2 linked regions of the Homo sapiens genome follow. The protein of the gene in region 2 purifies or fractionates together with the protein of the main gene of each other region. This does not show direct contact. Each region holds a gene or a part of one and is shown on either strand. Other genes may lie near its edges. The genes, in order: SLC6A15 and TMEM41B.

What was found.
Region 1: the proteins of TMEM41B (region 2) and SLC6A15 purify together in Homo sapiens (affinity purification with mass spectrometry; 2 studies listed by BioGRID and IntAct, with this or other methods). This does not show direct contact.

Annotation. Positions count from the first base shown.
Region 1 is NC_000012.12:84,901,377-84,911,438, forward strand, and holds part of SLC6A15 (sodium-dependent neutral amino acid transporter B(0)AT2), read right to left. Parts: intron 1-10,062.
Region 2 is NC_000011.10:9,283,551-9,293,612, reverse strand, and holds part of TMEM41B (transmembrane protein 41B), read left to right. Parts: intron 1-5,070; coding exon of another isoform or gene 5,071-5,077; coding exon 5,078-5,171; intron 5,172-5,806; coding exon 5,807-5,911; intron 5,912-7,019; coding exon 7,020-7,158; intron 7,159-10,019; coding exon 10,020-10,062. UniProt on the Homo sapiens protein: Phospholipid scramblase involved in lipid homeostasis and membrane dynamics processes. Has phospholipid scramblase activity toward cholesterol and phosphatidylserine, as well as phosphatidylethanolamine and phosphatidylcholine.

The sequences.
Region 1 (10,062 bases), on a different chromosome or scaffold from region 2:
AACTCATTGCCCTAAAGTGTTCTATAATATTCCACAGTTTTTTAAACACATATAGAATTCGTCATCATATCTTATCTTTATTACTGATATTGGTAATAGGTCTTTTTCTTTGTTTTTATCTTGACCAGTCTTGCTATAATATGTTCACTAAAAAATTAACTCAATACTTTCTGCCATTCTTGTTCCATCCTTCAAAATTTTCTACCTTCCAAGCCATTGTTACAATCTCTTTTGAAATTATATTAAATTTTAATTAACATTTCCAGTGAAAATATGCAAACACTTGAAGTAGCAGGTAGGTGTCTGCATCTGACATATATGATGGATGACTCAAACATATATATCTGCACTGGCTAATTTTTGGCATTTGTCACAAGCTTAGTATTCTATAATAAAGCACTAGAACACTAGTAAATTATCTCCCTGTCTTTGACAACTTAAAATTTCACTGAAAAAAAAGTTTTATTTAAATACAAACTAATTTGAATATGAAATGTTTAATTATTTATAGATTCAAATGAAATTCATTTTTCTATTTTCTAATATAGGACAAAAATAAAGACCATCCAAATAAAATCAAAATTTGGACCATACTGTAATGCTCAAGAAAAATTGTCACCGTATGCCAATTAGTTTATAGTTATGGTATAATTATAGAGGAAAAATATTTTCATCAAGAGATTTCATGAAATACTGAAATAATAATCTTGATGAATAATATGAAATATTTTTAACAATATAGAATTCAATAAATTGAAATGTATTTTGCAAATTGTATCCTGGTTTACATAAAATTTTTGCACTGAGCTATCAAATAAAAAATTACAGAGCCAATCAAAAGGAAGGGAACTTTTTTTACAAATAACAATACCAAGTCACTATTTATACTTCATTAAATGTATATTTTTTTTCCCAAAAGGTGGGCTACAAATAACACACCTATCAGAATGGCTAAACTTTGTTTTTTAAATTAATAACACCAAATATTGGTGAGGACATGTAGAAACTAAATCAATCACATGTTGCTGGTGGAAATGTAAAATGGTACAGCCACTCTGAAAAACAACTTGGTTACTTTTAACACTAATAAAGACTTCTCATAGTAACCAGCAACTATATTTCAGAGATATATCACAGAAAAATAAAAAAAAACTTACAAAACTTGTACACAAATGTCCATAGCAGCTTTACTTATAATAGAAAAAAAATGGAAACTATCCAGTATGCGTTTCAATGGGTGAATGGTTAAACTGTGCTACATTCGCACCATGAACCACTACTCAGCAGTAAAAAAGAACTATTGATACATGCAACAACTTGCATGTACCTAAAGGAAATGATACTCAGTGAAAACAATATAAAAATGCCAATTTCAAAGAAATACATATATAACAATTTTTATATAACATTTGTGAAATAACATAATTATAGAAATAAACAACATATTCATGGTTTGAAGAGTTAGGGATGGAGAGGGTAAATGGGTGTGCTTATAAAAGAGTAGCAGGAGAGAATCATATGGTAAGGCACACAGGTTACTATCTTCATTGTGGTAAGGGATAGAAGAAGGTATACATTTTATAAAATTTCACAGAGCTATAAACGTGGACATACTATGGATTATACCAGCATCAATATGCTGGTTTTTATATAGTACCGTATCTGACATAAGATGTTAGTGGTGGGGAAGTCGAGTAAATGGTGCATACACCTCCATGTGCACCCTTCTGTGAAATCGTAATTATTTCAAAATTAATTATAATCATAAAGCAATTTCCATAAATTGGAGTATATTTTTGTTGACTTCTGTGAATCAAAGATAGACAATCTTTCAAAATTCTTTTAGAGATTTCTGAAGTAGACAAAAAGTTTTTAAGACAAAGTTTTATTAACGTAAGGTATACCTCATGTAAGTGACGAGTTAATGGGTGCAGCACACCAACATGGCACATGTATACATATGTAACAAACCTGCACATTGTGCACATGTACCCTAAAACTTAAAGTATAACAAAAAATAAAATAAAATATACTAATATGCCCTAAAAAACATTGAGAATAAAAAAAATTACTTCAAATTTAATGTCTTAAAACAACAGAAATGTATTCTTTCATACTTCCGGAGACCAAAGAATCCAAATTAAGTTACAGTCAACCAAAATCAAGGCGTTACCAGGGTGGTATTTTCTCGGGAGGCTCTAGGGGAGAACATGAACCTTGCCTTCTCCAGTTTCTGGTGGCTGCTGGCATTCCTCAATTTGTGGCCTCATTACTCCATTCTCTGTTTCTGTAGTCAGATTGCCTACTTCCTTCTACTTCAGTCTAACATCCCTCTCCATCTTTCCTATAAGGATGCTTGTCATGGCATGTAGGGCCCATCTGGATCTTCCGAAATCATATCTTCATCTCAATACTATATCTGCAAAGACTTTTCTTCCAAATTAGGTAACATTTATAGATGTCAGGAAGTAGGAACTGGACACATCTTTAGGAGGCATATACTATTATTTAAACTAATTTATACTATGTTTTCTAAAAATATTAATTTAAAGGCACTGAATATGTTTTATTTGTTCATACATCCTTATACAATGTTGTTTGATCTTTTATAGTTATTTGTTGTAGTAGGCTGTTTTCCCTTCTTTTAAATCTGGGTTAACTTTGGTTTGCTTTGACCAGAAGGTAGCAGCAGTGAAACTATGCAAGTTCCAAGGCTATAGAAGCTTGGCAGTTTCTGCTTTCCCTCTTTTGGAAGCTAGGCACCATGTAAAACGTCTGCTTCTCCTGCTAGAAACCCCACATGGAAAGAGGGAGAGAAAGGGAGAGAAAGGGGGGAGGGGCGGAGGGGGAGAGAGAGAGAGAGAGAGAGAGAGAAATAGTCTCAAGCAACCATCATCTGAAGTGAAGCTCCAGGCATAAGAACAAAGGTATTGATATTCCAGCCCTAGCTGAACAGCCAGGTAACACACCAATTAGAGCAAATGAACCACCCAAATGAGCCCAACCACCCCACAGAAGAATGATTTTAAAAAGTCATTATTTTAAGACACTATGTTGTAGAATGGTTTGTTGTGTAGCAATAGATATCTGAAACATTTGTCTATGGATAAGATTACTTATGTATTGGATTTAACTAAAATTATACAAACTGTACTGAAATTTAAAATATTGTCCAATAACCTGTTCACAATGTGGCTAGATCTATGTAGAGGATATGTGGTTTAGGTTTTTAAATACACACAGTGATTTCATAGGTATTAGAATAGAAATAGGTATTAACTTTCAAAGCCACATTTAGTCAATCATATGTAAAGCTGCATAAAGTCAATTTCATGCTTAAGGCATCTTGGATATCGTAAGTGAAACAGGAATTATCATTGCAAAATCTGCAGACATCAAAATGACCATGAGAGAATACTAACAAAAACTCTACACACATAAATTTAGTAACTGAGGTGTAACCAATCAGTTCCTTAAAAAACACAAACTACCACAACTTAGCCAATAAGAAATAGAACATTTAATAGCTATATAACTAATAAATAAGTTGAATGCATAATTTTAAAACTGTCACAAAAGAAATCTCACTGGAAAATTCCACCAAACATTTAAAGAAGAATTAACATCAATTCTACACAATCTCTTCAGGCAATAGAAGATGATAGAATAATTTGTATTTCATTTTATGAAAGCAGTATTACTCAGGTACCAAAACCAGGCAAAGATCATAGTAAAAAATAAAAAACTACAGATCAATATTCCTAATGAATATAGACACAAAATTCCTTTACACAGTGTTAGAAAACAGAATTCAGTGATGTATAAAAAGAATTATATTCCATGATCAAGTAGGGTTTATTCTAAGTATTCAAGGTTGGTTCAATATTCAAAAATCAATATGTGATATACAATAATGACAGGCTAAAGGAAAAATCACATGACTATATCTACTGATGCAGGAAAGACAAAATTCAATGTCCATTTATGATCAAAAATGTCAAAAATTAGGAACAGAAGGAAACTTTCTCAACTTGATCAACAGCATCTACAAAAAATTTACAGTTGATATTATATTTACTGGTGAAAGACTAAATGCTTTTCCTTCAGGATAAGAAGCAAGATAAAAACGTCCACTCTCACACTCTTATTCAACATAGTATTGGAAGTTCTAAGTAGTGGCATAAGGCAAGAAAAAGAAAATACAGTCAGCCCTTAGTGTCCAAGGGACATTGTTGAAGGACCTCCCACAAATACCAAAATTCTCAGATGCTCAAGTCCCACATTCATCTGTGGGTCCTGCATCCCACAAGTACTATATTCACATCTGCATTTGGTTGAATCTGTGGATGCACAACCTAAGGACACAGAAGCCTAACTGTATAAGTCACATAAATCAAGAAACAAGAAAAGTCAAGTTACAAATTTATGTATAAGTCACATAAATCAAGAAAGAAGAACAGCCAAGTTACAAAAGATTTCCATCACATAAGGATTCCCTGTGTTGGCCTTTTTTAACTACAACCACTGTGCTCCAGTCCCCAGGCTCTCCTTAACTCCTGGCAACCTCTAATCTGTTCTCCATACTTATTTTTTGGTCATTTCAAGAATGTTATATGAATGTAATAATACAGTATTCAATTTTTTTGCAGATATTTTGATTGTCTATATTATAAATTCTAATGAATCTACAAAAATACCTTCTAGAGTAATAGTCCAAAAAAGTCACAGAATACACGGTAAACATACACAAATCATTTACAGTTCCATATGTTACCAATAAACAAGTGAACACAGAAATTAAAAATGCAATAGCATTTACAATCATTAAACTGACATAATTACACGAAAATGTAACAAAACCTGGATGGTACATTTTTGCTGAAAACTACAAAGTGCTGATAAAGTAAATGAAAGAAGATCTAAATGTATGGGAAGACATGCCATGTTCATGGATTAGAAAACTCAACATAAGAAAGATGTCAAATTTCCCTAAATTGATATATGGTTAAATGAATTCCTATCAAAATATCAGTGACATTTTTCTACAAAGAAGATTATTTCAAAATTTATATGAACAGGCAAAAAATTAGAGGAGCTACAACAATTTTAAACAGAAGAATGAAGTGGGAGGAATGATTCTATCGAATTTTGTGACTTATTATATAGCTACAGTAATGAAGTCTATGTGAGGTTGGTGAAAGGATAGACAAAAATGAATGTAACAGAAGAGGCTACCCAGAAAGAAGTGCACACAATATGCCTAACTAATTTTTGATAAAAGTACCAAAGCAATTTCAATGGAGAAAAAAATAGCTCTTTCAACAAATTGTTCGGGAAATAATTGGACATCCCTAGGCAAAAGTATAACCCTGAACCTAAATCTCATATCTTATACAAAAATTAATTCAAAATGAATTACAAACTTAAGTGGAAAATATAAAACTTTAAGAAACAAGTCATCAGATTAAATCTTTGAGATCTAGGGTTAACCAAAGAGCTCTTAGACATGACAAAAGCAGGATTCAGAAACACAAAAATTGATAAACTAGGCCCCAAAATTTGAAACTTTTGCTATGAGAAAGAATCTATTAAGAGGATGGAAAAAAAAAAGCTTAAAAATGGGAGAATATATTTGAAGGTCACAAATGACTGGTGTTTAGGATATATAAAGAACTCTTAAAACTCGACCGTTGCCAGGCGCGGTGGCTCACGCCTGTAATCCCAGCACTTTGGGAGGCCCAGACGGGTGGATCATGAGGTCAGGAGATTGAGACCATCCTGGCTAACACGGTGAAACCCTGTCTATACTAAAAATACAAAAATTAGCCGGGCGTGGTGGCGGGTACCTGTAGTCCAAGCTACTTGGGAGGCTGAGGCAGGAGAATGGTGTGAACCAGGGAGGCAGAGCTTGCAGTGAGCTGAGATCGCGCCACTGAACTCCAGCCTGGGCCACAGAGGGAGACTCCGTCTCGAAAAAAAACAAAAAACAAAAAAAAACTCGACCATTATAAATAAAATAAGAAAACAGGTAGAGATATTTCAATGAATATTATATATGAATGACAAAGAAGCACAAGAACTGAGGCTCGATATTATTAGCCATTAGGTAAATGCAAATATAAAATACTATGAGATGTTGCTATATTCCTATCAGAATGGCCAAAATATAGTGACAACCAAATTCTGGCAAGGATGCAGAGAAAATGGATCATTTATTCATTACTGGTGAGAATGTAAAATTGTACAAACACTCTGGAAAAGTTCGACTGTTCATTTAAAAACTAAACACACTGCTACCACATAACCGAGCAAGTGTTCTCATTTATCCCAGATAAATGAAAATTTATGTTCCAGAAAAGCCTATGCAGGAATGTCCATAGCAGTTTTATTTACATTAACCCTAAACTAGAAATAATCCAGATGTCATTCAATGGGTAAATAGTTATAAATTCTGGCACATCCATACCATTAACTACTATTTAGCAAAAACTACCAATATACATGACTTAGATGAATCTACAGAAAATTATGCTGAGTGAAAAAACATCAATTCAAATACATTGAATACTGTATGATTACATTTATATAATATTCTTGCAATGACCAAAAAATAAATATGGAGAACAGAGTAGAGATTGCCAGGAGTTAAGGAGAGCCTGGGGACTGGAGTGAAGTGGTTGTGGTTATAAAAGGCCAACACAGTTAATCCTTATGTAATGGAACTCTTTTGTAACTTAACTGTATCAATGTCAATATTCTGATTAGGAAGGTTTAATATAGTTATTACAAAATGTTATATTTGCAGGAAATTTGTCAAGAGCTCACAAGAACTCTCTGTGTTATTTCTTACCAACTACATGGGACTCAACACCCATCTCAAAATTAAGACTTTTTTTAATACCCTAAAATTATGCCTTTTTTGCTAGTATAATTAAATAACTTTATTGAATCAAGTACTAAATATGCTTCTCCAATATAATTTTATTTCTAAAACTCTTGAAAGAGGAAGCTTTCTTGTAAATTCAGAAACAACAACAAAAATCAGGGGGTCGTCAAAATACTCATTGACTTTTGTACCTTACTAATTCCATGGCATGTGATGAATGAATAAAACTCTACCAAAGGTGTTTATTTGCCTCTGTCTTTACTTTAAAATATTTTATATATTTATATTTTGAATACAAAATACTGTAATAAGATATTAAAGGGCAAAGAGTAAAGAAACATATATATATATATATATATATATATCTTCCTACCCTTTCTCCCTAGAATATACTGTACCATCTGTACCTCCCAATAAGTAACCAAAATCTTCAATAAATATTTTCTGTATATTCAAGCATATATATATGTGTGTATACACACTTAAACACTCTATATATATTCAAGCTAATATGTGTTTTCTCCCCACCAGCCCCCAATCTGCTTCTTTTTACACAACTATTACTATGTGCATAATTCTACCTCTTAGTTTTTCACTCTAATAAATTCTTCAAAACTCTTGATCTCAATGTAATAGCTTCATTTAAAAAACTACTGTATGATATTCCTTGGTATGGTATACCATATATTTAGATCATCACTGATAATTTGCTACTACAATGTTCCAACAAATTATTTTGTATATCTTGCATCTCCATATCTGTAGAATAAATTCCTAGAACTGGAACAGCTTGATCAAAAGGTATGAGCTTTTATAATTTTGATAAATATTACCAAATAGCCCTTGATAAAAATTGTGTCCATTTGCACTACCACCAGCAATGCATGAGAGTGCCCGCTTTCTTCTACTGTCTTCTGTATAACAAATAATCTCTTTGATCTTTGCCAATCTGATAGGTGAAAAAGTTCCCAAAGTATGCATTCTATTTAAAAATAAAAGTCAATTCATCTTATGTGAAAAGATACCTTAGCACATTAATCACAAGGAAATAAAGTGACCTTCAAGGCTGAACACAACTTACAGCTCTGCCCTGTGTCAAGTGATACTCTGCATTTGAAATTGCCCTATATCCCAGTTTATTTTTAGGGCTTGTTGTTCACAGAAAAAGAGATGATCATTACTGGTCAAAGTTAATATTTAAGCAGATAAATACATCAAAAATTGTTTAGTAAAGACAGCCAGAAGAGTGGTATGATAAGCAAAGTAGAAATAAATCTAATGATTCCTGCTATGTAACCTTGAATGTTGTTCATGCATCCAACTATGCCTGTAGATTTTTATTAATACTATCTGCTGAGAAACCATTTCAAAATCTACTCTGCACAGCTGCATAAGAATATACTAATATATCCTATCATGCATATGTATGTAGTAATAAAGAATTAACATACTCTTCCACAAGGTGAGAGGTCCATTGAGAAGTGAAAGAAAAGTTTTTAGGAGCTTTTGATAGCCACCAAGCTCTCTTTTGGGTCTGCTATTCTAAGTCAATGATTCAATTTCCTAGATGATATAATCCCAGAGTTAAAAAGAATGCAAATATCTTACCTATTCATATACAAATTATATTTTATGACAAGAGAAGCATATTTACAATTTCAACTATGATCACTGGGTAAGGTAGTAACTATGAATACGGACTTTAGAGTTTAGTAACTATTCTGACTTATTTTAAATGTTTCAGTAGGTGACAAGGAAGGCATCTCATCTGATTATTGGCATCTCTCATAACTGTTATCCAGTTTTAAGATTCTGCATTATTTCATATTTATTCAGTGATAGAGTACTGATCTCCTAGAAACATATAAAAATAACTTTCTTAATTCGATTAAAATACTACATCTCGAGTTAACTATATTAGAATTATAAAATAATTTTTCAATCAACTATATAATGTGCAATCAGAAAAAAGAAAAGCTTATCAACAGTAAAAGATTATCTTTCTTTAAAAATCCTATTAATTCCTGTCATCCTAAAAAAAAACACAAACTGAAAGCTTTATTTAGAGAAAAATGGTTAATAAATTCCATTTTAAATTTGTTGGGATATGTTTTACCACAACAAATACACATGGATCATTGATGATTCCATAGAAAAGGCAACAACACATAAAAATAAAATCGCCTGATTTTGATGGTCAAATATCTTGAATTTAATATGAGAGAAAAAAATACATACTGTTTGTTAGTCCAAACTGCACCATGTTGTAAGCTCCCTGCTATTTTGCAGACCTTGGTGAAAGCGAAACATTTCACAGGGGTTCGAGCTGTGAGAAACATCCCGTCTAACCAACTGACCACGAGTTGGACAAAGGCCTAACTAAAGAGACATCCCTATCATATCTTGCTGGACAAAGGTCCAAGGAACACCCTGAACAACAGAACGACATCGCGCCGGAACAAGAGCCAGAACCGCCTCTTCATGGAAGCATCTTATTAATATCCCGCGGAGCAGCAAGCCATACTGCTCAGACCCCTTCTGCCCGTACCTATAAATGGCCCCAGCCTGTAAGCGGCAGCGGGCTCCGGCATTAGGCTGGTCCTCCACTTCTGTAGGATTTATGCTGGACAGAAAGCCTGAATTTGCTGTTGAGCCGCCCTCTTTCCGTGTGTGTGTGTGTGTGTGTGTGTGTCTTTAACCCTCGCCTTCCCTTCAAAACCTAACACTGTTCAAAGAAGATTTAGTCCATCATTAAGTATTTATTAAGAACGTACAAGTCAAGCCCAGTACTGGGCGCCTAAGACATAAATAGGTCTGTGTTTCAGCAATGATCTTGCAGAAATGAGGTTGGGTGGGTGAGGGGCTTGTTGGGGCTGTGTCTGCACATAATAATTCCTCAAAACAAACACTTTGTTGCTGGCACAGCAGAAAAGCAATCAGGCATTGACAGGTAGAAAATAGCTTTTACAGCATGGGCGATGAGGAGCCCCAAAGCAGCATATAAAGCAAATCCTTCATTTCTCCCATACGTCTTAAGTAGTGAACCGCAAGGATGGTGCAGACTAAGATTGGGTCTACCTATAAGATCTGGAGGGGAAAACGGCAAGACCAGAAGAAACCGTCGCAGACTTATTTGCATAAGCACCCAAACACTGCTTACGTCACTGCGCCGGAGT
Region 2 (10,062 bases):
GATTCCATCCCCAAAAAATAAAAATAACAAAAATAAAAAGAATCAGAAGTATCCATATGTTGTTGAGGTATTAACTCACAATATACAGATAAGTGAAAGAACAAAGGGCAAAATAGTACACAAATATGCTGTGTTTTATCTAAGAAGGGGATAATATGAGTACACTCATATACATAAGTATCTTGTTATATTTTTCTTAAAAAACTAATTGGCCGGGTGTAGTGGCTCATTCCTGTAATCCCAGCACTTTGGGAGGCTTCAGCAGGAGGATTGCGTGAGGCCAGTGGTTCGAGACTGGCTTGGGCAATGTAGCTAGACCCAGTTTCTACGAGAAATACAAAAATTAGCTGGATGTCTTGGTACATGCCTGTAGTCCTAGCTACTTGGGAGGCTGAGGTGGGAAGATCACCTGAGCCCAGGGAAGTTGAGGCTACAGCGAAGCATTTAGCCTCTGCACTCCAGCCTAGGTGACAGTGAGACTGTATCTCAAATAAATAAACCAGTAAAAATGTTTACCTGTAGGGAGAGAGATAAAATGGTAGGACTGAAACTTTTCTTAGCGTAGGTTTGACTTGAGAACCAAGTAAATGTTTTACATAATTACAAAATCAAAATGAAAAAAGAGAATAGCAGGAATCTTAAGAATCAAAAGCAACCTCACACTCATTAGGATGGCTATCATGAAAATAACAAGTGTTGGCAAGGATGTGGAGAAATTGGAACTCTTGAGCACTGTTGGTGGGAATGCAAAATGATGCAGCTACTATGGAAAATAGTATGGCAGTTCCTCAAAAATTAAGAATAGTATTATCAGGGCCGGGTGTGGTGGCTCACACCTATAATCCCAGCACTTTGGGAGACCGAGGCAGGCTGATCACCTGAGTTTGGGAGTTCAAGACCAGCCTGACCAACATGAAGAAATCCCGTCTCTTCATGTATTTTTTTGTAGCGATGGGATTTCATCATGTTGCCCAGGCTGGTCTCGAACTGGAACTCTTGGGCTCAAGTGATCCTCCCACCTCAGCCTCCCAAGGTGCTGGGATTACAGGTGTGAGTCACCAGGCCTAGCCAAAAATCTTAAAACTGTTTTTAGTCATCATATTGTTAGTAGTAATAATGTTGTAAAATATTTAAATATGTGGAAACGTTTTAGATTATTAATACTAATGCATAGTATATATTTTATACATTTACTTTATGTTTCATAGTATATAAAGCACAAATAGGCAACTATGTTGGTGTTATCAAGAACCAAGATTTTTCAGTGTAAGAGAAGAGAAATCTAAACAAAGTTAAGCTCAAGTCACATTCCCATTTAAAAGGAAGCATAGTTTTGACTACTAGTATAAGATAAAGGATAGAACATAAACTACCCTAAGTATCCAATAGGCAAAATTCAATAAATGGTAAATTCTACAAATGATCTGGTTTCTTCAGTAAATTGAAAGAAAGAAAAAATAAAGACCCTATGCTTAAGTGATCCTTTGAGCAAATACTTTGTGTGGACTTCTAGATTCTGATCAGACTAGTCTTTAGGACAATAAGGAATTATAGTTAATTTCTTGAAGTCTGACAATGGTATCATATTTATGTTAAAAAGAAAAGGAGGCCAGGCACGGTGGCTAACACCTATAATTCCAGTACTTTGGGAGGCCGAGGCAGGTGGATCACGAGGTCTGGAGTTCAAGACCAACCTGACCAAGATGGTGAAACCCTGTCTCTACTAAAAATACAAAAATTAGCCAGTTATGGTGGCAGGCGTCTGTGATTCCAACTACTTGGGAGGCTGAGGCAGAGAATTGCTTGAACCTGGGATGCGGAGAATGCAGTGAGCTGAGATCACGCCACTGCCCTCCAGCCTGGACGACAGAGCGAGACTCCTACCACAAAAACGAAAGGAAAAAAAAAGGAATTGGCCGGGCGTGGTGGCCACACCTGTAATCCCAGCACTTTGGGAGGCCAAGCGGGGTGGATCACGAGATCGGGAGATGGAGACTATCCTGGCCAACATGGTGAAACCTGTCTGTACTAAAAATAAAAAAAATTAGCTGGGCGCGATGGCACACGCTTGTAATCCAAGCTACTCGGGAGGCTGAGGCAGGAGAATCGCTTGAACCTGGGAGGCAGGGGTTGCAGTGAGCCAAGATCATGCCACTGCACTCCAGCCTGGCGACAGAGCGAGACTCAGTCTCAAAAAAAAATTTATTTTTATTATTATTATAATTTTTTTGAGATGGGAGTCTCACTCTGTTTCCCAGGCTGGAGTGTAGCGACGCGATCTCGGCCCACTGCAACCTCCGCTGCCCGAGTTCAAGCAATTCTCCTGCTTCAGCTTGCCAAGTAGCTGAGATTACAGGCACCTGCCACTGCGCCCGGCTAATTTTTTGTATTCTTTGAACTCCTGACCTCATGATCCACCTGCCTTGGCCTCCCAAAGTGTTGGGATTTACAGGTATGAGCCACCGCGCCCAGCCTTATTTTTATTTTTATTTTTTTTGAGACAGAGTCTCACTCTATTTCCCAGGCCAGAGGTCAGTGGCATGATCTCGGCTCACTACAACGTCTGCCCTCTGGGTTCAAGAGATTCTCGTTTCCCAGCCTCCTGAGTACCTGGCATTACAGGCATGAGCCACTGTGACTGGCCAATTTTTGTATTTTTATTAAAGACAGGGTTTCATCGTGTTGGCCAGGCTGTTCTTCAACTCCTAGTCTCAAGTGATCCACCCTCAGCTGCCTAAAGTATTGGGATTACAGGCGGGAGCCACGGTGCCCAGCCTGAAATATGTTAATATAGGGCATCATAACACTAGTTTCTCTACTTTGTTTTTTTTTCCCCAATTTCAGCTGTAATTTTAGGTTTCCTTTTCAGAGAAGTAGGAATTGCACCAAATTTTGGGAAAGGAAAAAATACAGTTGCGTTAAACAACAAAAACAACAAAACACTTCCTGGGAACTTGTCCTCATTTATTTCTGCTTCTCTCAATTTCCTCAAGGGAAAATTTCCATTTATCTCCTTTCATCCTTTGGAGTCTTGCTTTCTTTTCTTTCTTTTTTTTTTTTATTATTATACTTTAAGTTCTGGGGTACATGTGCACAGCGTGCAGGTTTGTTACATACGTATATGTGTGCCACGTTGGTTTGCTGTACCCATCAACTTGTCATTTACATTGAGTATTTCTACATTTACATATGTGTGAAACTATCCATAATATGATGTTTTGTTTTGTTTTGTTTTTGAGATGGAGTCTTGCTCTGTTGCCAGGCTGGCTTGCAGTGGCGAGATCTCGGCTCACTGCAATCTCCTGCTTCCTGGGTTCAAGCGATTCCCCTGCCTTGGCTTCCCGAGTAGCTGGGACTACAGGTGCCCACCACCACGCCCGGCTAGTTTTTTGTATTTTAGTAGAGACGGTTTCACCATGTTGGCCAGGATGGTCTCGATCTCCTGACTTTGTGATCCGCCTGCCTCAGACTCCCTAAGTGCTGGGATTACAGGCATGAGCCACCCCACCCGGTCCATATAGTACAATCTTAACCCAAAAAGTGTGTGTGTTTGTGTGTGTGTGTGTGTGTGTGTTTTGTTTTTGACAGAGACATGTAGGAGACAGGTGGAAAATTTGAGGCTGATGAACCAAAGAGAATTTCGAGTTTTTAGTACTATATGTGGTTGATACTTGAAGCCATGGAAATTGCCAAATTTATCAAAGAAAAGGGATTGTGTGGCCAACAGAATGTTAGAGAAATTTCAAGAGTTGAGGGCAAAGAGAAAAATCTAGAGAAGAAATTACCTGTAATGTAGAAGAAAAAGTACAGTTCACTGAAGCCATGTTTCATGCAGGATGAAGTCTAATCCTATGCAGGGATCACTGAAAGGTGACTATTGAGAAAAAGTTATTATTGGCTGTGAGGAAGTTTCAATAGCATAGTGGAATAGTAAAGCAGGTCACAGGGAACGAGGAGAGAATCTCCTCTGAGGAAGTGAAGATGAGCGGTAGCTGGATAGGATACCCTGGTTGAGGTTGTTTTTTAAGTTATAGACAACTGAGTAGTTTTGTAGAGGAGGCATCCTGTGAAAGAGAACAGAGTTGAAGGTGAAAAAACCCAGGAGGAAGGAGGAGGAGATTGAAATGAGAACATGAGTAAAATGGGAACTAGAGAAAAAGGAATAGTTAATGAGTGAGGATAGATGGAGAGATGTTGAGGGAATTCACTTTGACTTGTGAGTAAATCATATTAGAGGGGAAAAAGGTTCAGATCCAAACTGGGAACGACAGGAAAGTAAAAAAAAAAAAAAATCTATTTTAAAAACAAGATTTGTGGCCCGGGTGTAGTCGCTCATATCTGTAACCTCAACACTTTGGGAGTCCATTGTGGGAGGATCGTTTGAGCCCAGGAGTTCAAGACTAGCCTGGGCAACTCAGCCAGACCTCATCTCTACAAATAATAAAAATTGGTGTGGTGACACACGTCCGTGATCCCAACTACTTGCAAGGCTGAAGTGGGAGAATTGCTTGAGCTTGGGCATTTGAGGCTGCAGTGAGCCATGAGTGCGCCACTGCGTTCCAGCCTGGGTGACAAAGCAAGACCCCTTCTCAAATAAGATTTGTGACTTTTACTATATTTTGTAATTTCTATTCTTATTTTTCTTATTTTCTTTTATTCTCTTGTAGTTCCTATTCCTTTAAAATGAGTAGTGAATTTAGGTAAACCTTCATAGTTAAATTAGAAATAATTGTATGTACATGATTTCCCTGAAAACATTTGGGAGTAAAATAAAATGTATTAGAGAAGCACTAAAAGATTACGGAAGACCTTTTCTTTTTTCTTTTGTTCCTCCCCCAAAGTGCCCGGTTCCTCTCTATCTAGAACATACGGTTTTTTGTCTTGGAAACCTTTTAGTAGCACACACTTACTAGTATTTATGATACTGTTTAGTAAATGGTCAACTTAGAGGCTAGACCTTTGGATATAATCTCATTGTATGATAATTTTTGTATTTATACTTTTTTCCTGAAATGTTACATTTGTCTTTTAAAATTCTACTTAATTATATTCTAATCCTTAACTTAAAAGTTACCAGCTTGCAAACATTTGCTATTCCAGGCTCTATATTTCTCAGTATACTCTCAGGGTTTCTTTATCCCTTTCCACTAGCCTTATTTCTTGTTTGTTTGGTAAGTATGAAAAAATAAAATTGGGAGACTGAAAAAACAATAGAATGATGAGGATGATGATGATACTTTAACCCTACTAGTCTATGTAAGCATAAACTCATTAATTGAAGAGGAGTTAATGTTAAAGTCCCTCCACAAGGAGGTGTTATAATTTGTTTTTCCCCCAGAACAGACCAATTATAGACTTAGTTGCATTTATAAGCTATGTTTTAGCTTTTCTTTCCTATTGGATTTTGTAACTGCGACAGTCCAAGGAGTGTTGGTGAGCACAATGAGTTAAGTCCCAGAGCCAGAGGTGGTGTTTTCAAGCTTAGGAACTGGGGGGGTCGGGGGTAGGGTCGGGGGGAGGTGGAAATTGGCTCCTGAAATTTTATTCTTAGGCTAAAGCCTAGCATTAATTATTTGGATATAGTCACTAGGTGTAATCACAAGTGCCAGTTTGTTTTAGCTGATCTCATTTGAGGTACATTTTGGTCTGAGAAAGTACTAGATCATCTCTGCACAAGAGATGTCATGCAGAGTACCCTCCCCACCTCTGAAAGAAGTAAATTAATTGAGCTTTTTACTCAGGTGAATAAATCAATGTGAGTAAGACGGAAAAATACAAAACGCTTATGGCTTCTTTTGTTTTCCAGTGTTCTGGACTTGGTGCCTCTTTCTGTTATATGCTTTCCTATTTAGTTGGGAGACCAGTTGTATACAAATACCTAACAGAGAAAGCAGTAAAATGGTCACAGCAGGTAAACATGTATTTTTAAATTATTTGATGTAACTCTTTGTTAATTGGAAGGTCTGTGTTTAGTCCCTACATGAATTAACTACATGTATTAACCCAACATAAATTAATTCCTAAGTTAACTCAAGTAATAAGAATTATCTTCTGACCAAATAAAAATGGGTGGTAGGCAAATATGAATGTTAATAATTTCAAATACAAATGTTTCAGACCTGTGATGGTAATTTTAATTCTTTATCTTAGTAAATTTAATCAGCAGAGAAGTCAGTGTGAATATAAAGGCATCCACATAATTAGATACCTATCTGTTTTATGTTAATGCAGTATTGTGTGCATCTGTTATGGAAACACTTGTATCAGCCAACTCCCAGTGCATTTTTTTCTTTTCTTTTTTTGAGACGGAGTCTTACTCTGTCACCCAGGCTGGAGTGCAGTGGCATGACCTCGGCTCACTGCAACCTCTGCCTCCTCGGTTCAAGCATTTCTCCTGCCTGCCTCAGCCTCCCAAGTAGCTGGGATTATAGGTACATGCCACCACGCCTGGCTAATTTTTTGTATTTTTAGTAGAGACAGGGTTTTACCATGTTGGCCAGGCTGGTCTCGAACTCCAGACCTCAGGTGACCCACCTGCCTCAACCTCCCAAAGTGCTGGGATTATAGGCATGAGTCACCACTGGCCTTTTTTGATGATTTCTTTTCTTTTTTGAGTCAGAGTTTCGCTCTTGTTGCCCAAGCTGAAGTGCAGTGGCGTGATCTTGGCTCATTGCAACCTCTGCCTCCCGGGTTCAAGCGATTCTCCTGCCTCAGCCTCCCAAGTAGCTAGGATTTCAGGCACATGCCACCATGCCCGGCTAATTTTTTGTATTTTTAGTAGAAACGGGTTTCACCATGTTAGCCAGGCTGTTCTCGAACTCCTGACCTCAGGTGATCCGCCTGCCTCAGCCTCCCAAAGTGCTGGGATTACAGGCATGAACCACCTCGCCAGCCTGATCATTTCTATTGGGTATACTCTGAAGTATCAGGAATGAGAATTTGAAATAAGGTGTTTATATTAAGCAACTTATTTTGAAGTTGTCCTCATCTGATGCTAATTCTTTTCTTTCTTATGACAGGTTGAACGTCATAGAGAACATCTCATTAACTACATTATATTTTTGAGAATAACACCATTTCTGCCTAATTGGTTTATTAATATCACATCTCCTGTGATAAACGTGCCATTGAAAGTTTTTTTTATTGGTACTTTTCTAGGTAAGCCCTCTGGTTCTTGCTGTGTATGAGCTCACTGTGTACATATCTAACAGTGTCCAGCTGGGCTAGATTACATGCATGCTCTCTGCAGATTATGCCAGCACCATCTAGAATTCTTGGGCACAAAGCCTGGCTGTATAAATAGATGCTCAGAAGTGTTTGTTGAATTGTGTTGATTTAGGTTATTTTTGTGTCGCCTCTTTAAAGAAGAACACTTTCTACTGTATATCGTTTTAATGATATAGGGTTAAGCAGGACTTCCAGTCCCTCTAAGTGGAGAGGAAAAAAAATCAAATTGCCTTTTTTGAGCAATTTTCTCCTATGTCCCTTCCCCTTCCTCTTCCCTGAGTCTCGATCTGTCGCCCAGGCTGGAGTACAGTGGCATGATCTCGGCTCACTGCAATCTCCGCCTCCCGGGTTCAAGCGATTCTCCTGCCTCAGCCTCCCAAGGAGCTGGTACTGCAGGCACACGCCACCACGTCTGGCTAATTTTTGTATTATTAGTAGAAATGGGGTTTCACCATGTTGGCCAGGCTGGTCTCGAATTCCTGTCCTCATGGTCCACCTACCTCAGCCTCCCAAAGTGCTGGGATTATAGGCGTGAGCCACCGCACCCAGCCCTTTCTTTTTTTTTTTTTTTTTGTAAATGTTGCTTTGGCAAAATAGCTCCTTTGTTTTCTAATCAAGTATTAAAATGTTGAACTTGAATTTTCAGTAGAGAATTGATCCTATTTTTCCTTTTACTGAAACCAGCTTTTATCGCGGATGTTATCAAAAGTATGGAAAAAGCAAGGATCAACAAACTTTCTTGCTTTTAAGGAAATAATACTTGATTTTGAAATTAATCAGTGGACATGAAAATTACTTACATATTTTGTGAATTCTCATGATTCTTTGTAGGAATGTTTTGCTCTTCTTTCCAGTTCGAGTTGAATTGTTTAGAAGTCAAAAATACGAGCAGATTTCTTACATATTGAATACCTATTAAAGCTTAAGTTAATACTTGTGAGAATATGTCTTTTTGAAAAGAATAACCAAAATCAATTATTTATTGCTACTTTAAAAAAAAATTAGCCGGGCGCGGTGGTTCACGCCTATAATCCCAGCACTTTGGTAGGCCAAGGCGGGTGGATCACAAGGTCAAGAGTTCGAGACCAGCCTGGCCAATATGGTAAAACCCTGTCTCTACTAAAAATTCAAAAATTAGCTGAATGTGGTGGCAGGTGCCTGTAGTCTCAGCTACTCAGGAGGCTGAGGCAGGAGAATCACTTGAACCCAGGAGGCAGAGGTTGCAGTGAACCGAGATTGTGCCACTGCACTCCGGCCTGGGCGACAGCAAGACACTGTCTCAAAAAAAAAAAAAAAAGAAAGAAGGAAAGAATGAAAAGAAAAGAAAAAAAAATGGACAAACTTACATCAGCATGGGGAATTTTTAATTTTGTTAAATGTCATATCCATGGAATCTAAAGAGAGAATTTTTGTTTCTATCTCCATTTTATAGGTGAAAGCCAGAGATTTAGTTAATTTCAGCTTTGGCCAAAGTAATTTATTTCCCTTTGTTTTGATTTTTAGTGAAATGTCATCATTCTCTATGTACTTTTGTATACACTGCTCTCTTTACTCACACTTTGAGTATCTTGACCTTGAAATTGCTAGAACAGAGCACGTTTCTTTCTTTTTTTTTCTCTTTTTGAGACAGATTCTCTCTCTGTCGCCCAGGCTGGAGTGCAGTGGCGTGATCTCAGCTCATTGCAACCTCCGCCTCCTGGGTTCAAGTGATTCTTTTGCCTCAGCCTCCCAAGTAGCTGGGATTACAGGTGTGCGCCAACACACCCAGCTAATTTTTGTATTTTTAGTAGAGATGGAGCTTCATCATGTTGGCCAGGCTGGTCTCAAACTCCTGACCTCAGGTGATCTGCCTGCCTTGGCCTCCCAGGGTGCTGGGATTACACGTATGAGCCACTGTGCCGGGCCTGTTTTTTTTTCTTTTAAGGTTTTTGATAGTCTGGGTGTGGTGGCTCACACTTGTAATCCCAGCACTTTGGGAGGCTGAGGCGTGTGAATTGCCTGAGCCTGGGAGTTACAGAGACCAGCCTGGGCAATATGGCAAAACCCCCTCTCTTGACAAAAAATTCAAAAATTTTGCCTGGGTGTGGTGGTACACGCCTGTAGTCCCAGCTGCTCAGAAAGCTGAGGTGGGACAATCACCTGAGCCTCGAGAGACTGAGGCTGCAATGAGTGATGATTGCACCACTGCACTCAAGCCTGTGCGATAGAGTCAAACTCTCGGGGGGAGAAAACAAAAGCATTTTTGATAAATGTAAAACTATTTTCTGGGCCCTTTTCTTGCGTTTTTAAAATTCATTATTCTGGCCAGGTGCAGGGGCTCATGCCTGTAATCCCAGCACTTTGGGAGGCTGAGGTGGGCGGATCATCTGAGGTCGGGAGTTTGAGACCATTCTGACCAACATGGAGAAACCCCATCTCTACTGAAAATACAAAATTAGCCGGGTGTGGTGGCACATGCCTGTAATCCCAGCTACTCGGGAGGCTGAGGCAGGAGAATTGTTTGAACCCGGGAGGCGGAGGTTGCAGTGAGCCAAGATCGCGCCATCGTGTTCCAGCGGGGGCAACAAGAGCGAAACTCCGTCTCAAAAAAAAAAAAAATCATTATCCTTAAGAGGTGATTAGGAAAGATTGAATTCTTTATATGGAAATAAACTTGAGCTTTAAATTCTTAATTTTTTTTCCAAAATGGAAATAGCTGTGTTGTTTTAAGAAACTTTATGCACACAGAACATTTTAATTTTTTAAAAACAATTGCGGTGGTTTTTACTGTATCTTTTTATATTTTATTTCAGGTGTCGCACCTCCTTCTTTTGTAGCCATTAAGGCAGGAACAAC